Linked DNA regions of Homo sapiens: region 2 is linked to region 1. Evidence: fine-mapped expression QTL. A gene starts in region 1. The other region holds a variant in brackets. All regions are shown on one strand. Distances are from middle to middle.

Region 1 (2,906 bases):
ACGTCTCAAAAAAAAAAAAGAACTGAGGCACAATTCATATAAGTAGAATGTTTATTTGGGGCAAGTTTGAGGATTGCAACCCAGAGCACAGATTCAAAATGCCCTGAGTAGCAGCAGTTGCAAGTGGGTTTTTAGAGGAAAAAATGGCAGTTCCTAAATTGTCTACCAAGAATTTACATTAAAATAACACAAGCGATTGATTGGCTATACATCATTCTTTTCATGACAAATTCCAGGAACGCGGACATAATGGGTGAAGCAGCTAGTCAGGAATAAAATGCCAGGCATTAAGTGGGGAGGTGTCTGAAGTCCCATACTGCTGTCTCTCTGGGCCCGGCAAATTTTGCACATCTCAAATAATTAACAATGCTCCGAGCCATTCTTCTTTTCTCATATAGAACAAGACTCACGAAAACCGACAGCAGCAGCTTTAGGAGGCCCAATACAGTCCGTTTTCCGTACGAAATGAGTTTAATTTATTGTGACTGCTCCAAAAGAAAAGTGCGGTTCATCTAATTTTCTTCCGAAAAGGAAGTTAAGGACCAGAGTTTCTTTGACCCCCTTCCCCCCACCCACCTCCTCCATTTTCCAGCTCTAGAGAATGGCTGGGGCAGCGCGCGACGTTGTAGCTACGGTTACGACCCGCCCCGTTCCTTCTACGAGAACCACATCAGCGTAGTATCACTTTTCCCCTCCGAAGCACAGTCACCCGTCAGCAGCCTCGAGGGCTGACGTGTCCTTATCAAGCCGGCGCGCCCCGCGATTCTATAGCCGCCATGCCTGAGACCTTTTTCCTGAAGGGAGAAGCCTGCTCTCGAACTAAGGCCGGCGAGGGCCATAGGTCTCGCCTTCCCTTTCCTAAGAAGGCCTAGTCCTACCCAGGATTCTGAGCAAGGGAGGCTCCTATTGGAGCCGCTACAGCCTCGTTCTTAGCTTACCGAGAAACAGCGCCCGACACCTGGCCCTTCGCAGCTCTCGCCTTTCGCAGCTCTCGCCTAACAGGAAAGGGAAGAAACAGGCGGAAGTGGGAACTGCACCTGAGCGACAGTACTGCAAACCAATAGGCAGCCGGCCACGGCGGTCAGGCGCCTTCGGTCGCGTCTGGAAAGCACCAACCAACGGTCTAAGGGGCGGGCCGGAGGGGTGTGGGCCGGAGGGCCGCGGTGTGCCGCGGGGCAGTTGCGGGTTGTCATAACGGTCCCCGCCGGAGTGAGGCGAGGCCGCGTCGCTCAGTTCTGGCCGTCTAGGGCCCCTGTAAGGATGAGAGCGCAGAGGACGCAGGGCCGCTGGAGGCGCAGGTAACGAAGCTAGGGTGCGGTTGGGACCGCGGCTGAGCTTTTTCCGGGACCCGTGGTGCTGAATGGAGAGGACGGAGACGAAGCCGAGCCGCGGCTCCTAGCGGCGGCGCCGATGCTCGAGCTGTAGCTGCCAGGCGAGGATGTGTGGAGCGCAGGCGGCGCGGGGTAAATGAGAGGTCTCGGGCCCCAGGACCCCCGGGGCCCGGGATGAGTTAGCGAGGGCAGCCGCGGGGGCCAGTTCCGACCGTGACAGGCCAAGGCGACGGCCGCCGCCCGCCCGCCCCTTCCGTGCAGAAGCAGCTGCTCCTTTCCGCGCCCGCCCGCCTGCGCTCCCGGCCCTGGAGACCATGAGGTTCCGCATCTACAAACGGAAGGTGCTAATCCTGACGCTCGTGGTGGCCGCCTGCGGCTTCGTCCTCTGGAGCAGCAATGGGCGACAAAGGAAGAACGAGGCCCTCGCCCCACCGTTGCTGGACGCCGAACCCGCGCGGGGTGCCGGCGGCCGCGGTGGGGACCACCCCTCTGTGGCTGTGGGCATCCGCAGGGTCTCCAACGTGTCGGCGGCTTCCCTGGTCCCGGCGGTCCCCCAGCCCGAGGCGGACAACCTGACGCTGCGGTACCGGTCCCTGGTGTACCAGCTGAACTTTGATCAGACCCTGAGGAATGTAGATAAGGCTGGCACCTGGGCCCCCCGGGAGCTGGTGCTGGTGGTCCAGGTGCATAACCGGCCCGAATACCTCAGACTGCTGCTGGACTCACTTCGAAAAGCCCAGGGAATTGACAACGTCCTCGTCATCTTTAGCCATGACTTCTGGTCGACCGAGATCAATCAGCTGATCGCCGGGGTGAATTTCTGTCCGGTTCTGCAGGTGTTCTTTCCTTTCAGCATTCAGTTGTACCCTAACGAGTTTCCAGGTAGTGACCCTAGAGATTGTCCCAGAGACCTGCCGAAGAATGCCGCTTTGAAATTGGGGTGCATCAATGCTGAGTATCCCGACTCCTTCGGCCATTATAGAGAGGCCAAATTCTCCCAGACCAAACATCACTGGTGGTGGAAGCTGCATTTTGTGTGGGAAAGAGTGAAAATTCTTCGAGATTATGCTGGCCTTATACTTTTCCTAGAAGAGGATCACTACTTAGCCCCAGACTTTTACCATGTCTTCAAAAAGATGTGGAAACTGAAGCAGCAAGAGTGCCCTGAATGTGATGTTCTCTCCCTGGGGACCTATAGTGCCAGTCGCAGTTTCTATGGCATGGCTGACAAGGTAGATGTGAAAACTTGGAAATCCACAGAGCACAATATGGGTCTAGCCTTGACCCGGAATGCCTATCAGAAGCTGATCGAGTGCACAGACACTTTCTGTACTTATGATGATTATAACTGGGACTGGACTCTTCAATACTTGACTGTATCTTGTCTTCCAAAATTCTGGAAAGTGCTGGTTCCTCAAATTCCTAGGATCTTTCATGCTGGAGACTGTGGTATGCATCACAAGAAAACCTGTAGACCATCCACTCAGAGTGCCCAAATTGAGTCACTCTTAAATAATAACAAACAATACATGTTTCCAGAAACTCTAACTATCAGTGAAAAGTTTACTGTGGTAG
Region 2 (2,906 bases), 73 kb before region 1:
AGCTTTCTCCAGCTGTGCTGGTATGCACAAAGGCAGCTCTGCTACTTAGGACACTTTGTGACTCTAGTAAGGTATAGACTTGAACTGCAAGCAACTCTAAACCCTCCAAGAAGTGAAACATCTTAAGGCTAGACAAGGTAGAAAAAGGTGAGCACTAGCAAACCACATGGGCCTGCCCTGGAACTGTGCCACAGTCAAAGTACAGTGGTTAGTAGTCAGAATAATTTTTGAAGAGATTTTCTCCACACATGTCAATTAGCATTGAAGGGAGTTGATATGGACTGAACTGTGCTCCCCCTCCACCATCCACATATTAAAGCCTTAACCCCCCATGTGACTGTATTTGGAGATAGGGCTTTTAAGGAGGTAATTAAGATTAAATAAGGTTGTAAGGAAGGAGGCTTAATTCAATAGAACTTGTGTCCTTATTTAAAAAAAAAAAAAAGGGCCAGAAACAGTGGCTCACACCTGTAATCCCAGTACTTTGGGAGGCCGAGGCAGGCAGATCACGAGGTCAGGAGATAAAGACCATCCTGGCTAACATGGTGAAACCCCATCTCTACTTAAAATACAAAAAATTAGCCAGGCGTGGTGGCAGGCGCCTGTAGTCCCAGCTACTCGGGAGGCTGAGGCAGGAGAATGGCCCGGGAAGCGGAGCTTGCAGTGAGCTGACATCGTGCCACTGCACTCCAGCCTGGGCGACAGAGTAAGACTCCGTCTCAAAAAAGAAAGAAAGAGAAGATCAGGCATGGTGGCTCATGCCTGTAATCCCAGCACTCTGGGAGGCTAAGGCAGGCAGATCACCTGAGGTCAGGAGTTCGAGAACAGGCTGGCCAACATGGTGAAAGCTATCTCTATTAAAAATACAAAACTTAGGCGTGGTGGCACATGCCTGTAGTCCCAGCTACTCAGGAGGCTGAGGCATGAGAATAGCTTGAGCCCGGGAGGCAGAGGTTGCAGTGAACCAAGATCACACCACTGCACTCTAGCCTAGGTGACAGAGCAAGACTCTGTCTCAAAAAAAAAAAAAAGTAAAGGAAGAGACACTGGAAATACATGTACACAAAGGCACTATGAGGACACAACGAGAAGGCAGCCATCTGCAAGCCAGGAAGAGAACTCTCACCAGAAACCAACTCGACCAGCACATTGATATTAGACTGGTAGCCTCCAGAACTATAAGAAAATAAACTTC[T/C]ATTGTTTAAGCTACTCTGTCTGTAGTATTCTGTTATGGCAGCCTGAGCAGAAAAATACGGGGGTCTAATTTATAACTGTCCAACACACACACACACACACACAGAGAGAGAAAGAGAGAGAGAGAGAGAGAGAGGAAAACTTACCAGCAGAGAAGGCAATAGGAAACTAGGGCTGGCCCCTGCAGAATTCTTTCAATGGGCTCCAGGATAGGGGATGCAATGTCCGTGAATACTCCCTGATATGGTTTGGCTGTGTCCCCACCCAAATCTCATCTTGAATTCCCACGTGTTGTGGGAGGGACCCAGTGAAAGGCAACTGAATCATGGAGGCAGGTCTTTCCCAAGCTATTCTTGTGATAGTAAGTCTCACAAAATCTGATGGTTATTATAAGGGGGAGTTTTCCTGCACAAGCTCTCTTTTGGCCTGCTGCCATCCATGTAAGGCATGACTTGCTGCTCCTTGACTTCCACAATGATTGTGAAGCTTCCCCAGCCATGTGGAACTATAAGTCCAATAAACCTCTTTCTTTTGTAAATTGCCCAGTCTCAAGTATGTCTTTATCAGCAGTGTGAAAACAGACTAATACACTCTCACATTAGTAATTTTTACACCATCCCAACATAGTTATTATAATAGAAGTTTTTTCATAGGGTATTAGTACGTACAGGTCAACAAACACTTATGAGGCACCTACTGTGCCAAGCAGTAAGACAGGGAGTACAAAGATGATGATATCTGCCTTCAAAGACCTTATAGCAGGCTCACCAAGATCCTGGACTGAGCCACGCTCTGCCCACTCCTCCAGGCAGTTCATACTGTGCACCTGAATCATAAGTATTCCCTAATCCTACAGACCCCCAGCTCTCTGAATGGTTTGCTAGTGGACATCTTTTTCTACCTTGTCTTGCCTTAAGAGGTTTTACTTCTTGGAGAGTTTAGAATTGCTTGCATTTCAAAAAGAACCCAAGGTTCTTCATTTGCAGTTTTTCTTGTTTTTGGAAAGCAGAATGGTGGCTGGGAAGAGCTCTGGACATGGAGTTGGGTCTGGATGAGTTCCAGGCTCCCACTTCAAGCTGATGACCCGTCTGACCTAGTCTCAACCATAGGTAAATGAAGACAATAATACTTACCTGATAAAATGTTGTGAGGATTTAAAGAAATGTGTATACTTAAGTGCAAAGTTACATAAACAAAATGCAGTAGTAGCAATAACTATCACGTACAGACTATTCTCTACACACCAGGAACTGTGGTTCTTAGAGATAGAGAAAAAAAAAAGAAGTGTTTTTCCTTTTCTCATAGACTCAACAAAACATTCTGACACCAGGTGTTTGGGGATTTCTTCCCACACATCAAGCAATCAGTGTTCCAGCAGACACCAAATAAATGCCCTTTAATTCAATTCAACTCTGATGCTATCAACCTGGAGATAGCATCAGGCCCCACAGGTTAAGGGCTCCTCTCACAAGACTGCCTCCCACTTCAGATGCCAATTGCAGGCCCCAGGTTGTGACCTGTGCTTCTGCCCAAAAGGCTGTAAATCAGGGTTCCCATGACTTCCTCCCAGGGTTCGATTAATTTGCTACAGCAGCTCACAGAACTCAAAGAAACACCTTACTTACATTTACCCACTTATTATAAAGGATATTCAAAGGATACAGATGGACTGCTGGATGGAAGAGATGAATTGGTCAAGGTGCAGGGGAGGG

Direction of the effects. Positions count from the first base shown, and alleles are read on the strand shown. Sizes are in standard deviations (SD) of each study's normalised expression.
For the expression in esophagus muscle of the gene that starts at base 1,176 in region 1, C is the high allele of the variant in region 2 and T is the other (small effect, 0.20 SD a copy in GTEx).

What was found. PIP is the estimated chance that this variant, and not a neighbour inherited with it, causes the effect.
Region 2: its variant is the best candidate, but not a certain one, in a credible set for the expression of MGAT2 in esophagus muscle (GTEx, PIP 0.70).

What each region holds. Positions count from the first base shown.
Region 1 is chr14:49,619,624-49,622,529 of GRCh38, forward strand. MGAT2 (alpha-1,6-mannosyl-glycoprotein 2-beta-N-acetylglucosaminyltransferase) reads left to right here and starts at 1,176. Exons shown (of 1, transcript NM_002408.4): 1 at 1,176-2,906. The coding sequence starts at 1,646. RPL36AL (ribosomal protein L36a like) reads right to left here and starts at 1,003. Exons shown (of 2, transcript NM_001001.5): 1 at 939-1,003. RefSeq lists enhancers at 778-887, 1,276-1,826 and silencers at 1,048-1,257, 1,558-1,667.
Region 2 is chr14:49,547,030-49,549,935 of GRCh38, forward strand. LOC107984701 (a long non-coding RNA gene) reads right to left here. Exons shown (of 3, transcript XR_007064154.1): 1 at 2,820-2,906. Among named protein-coding and RNA genes, the nearest start is that of RPS29, 38 kb to the right of the region's middle. The variant T/C (reference allele first, on the strand shown) is at 1,196.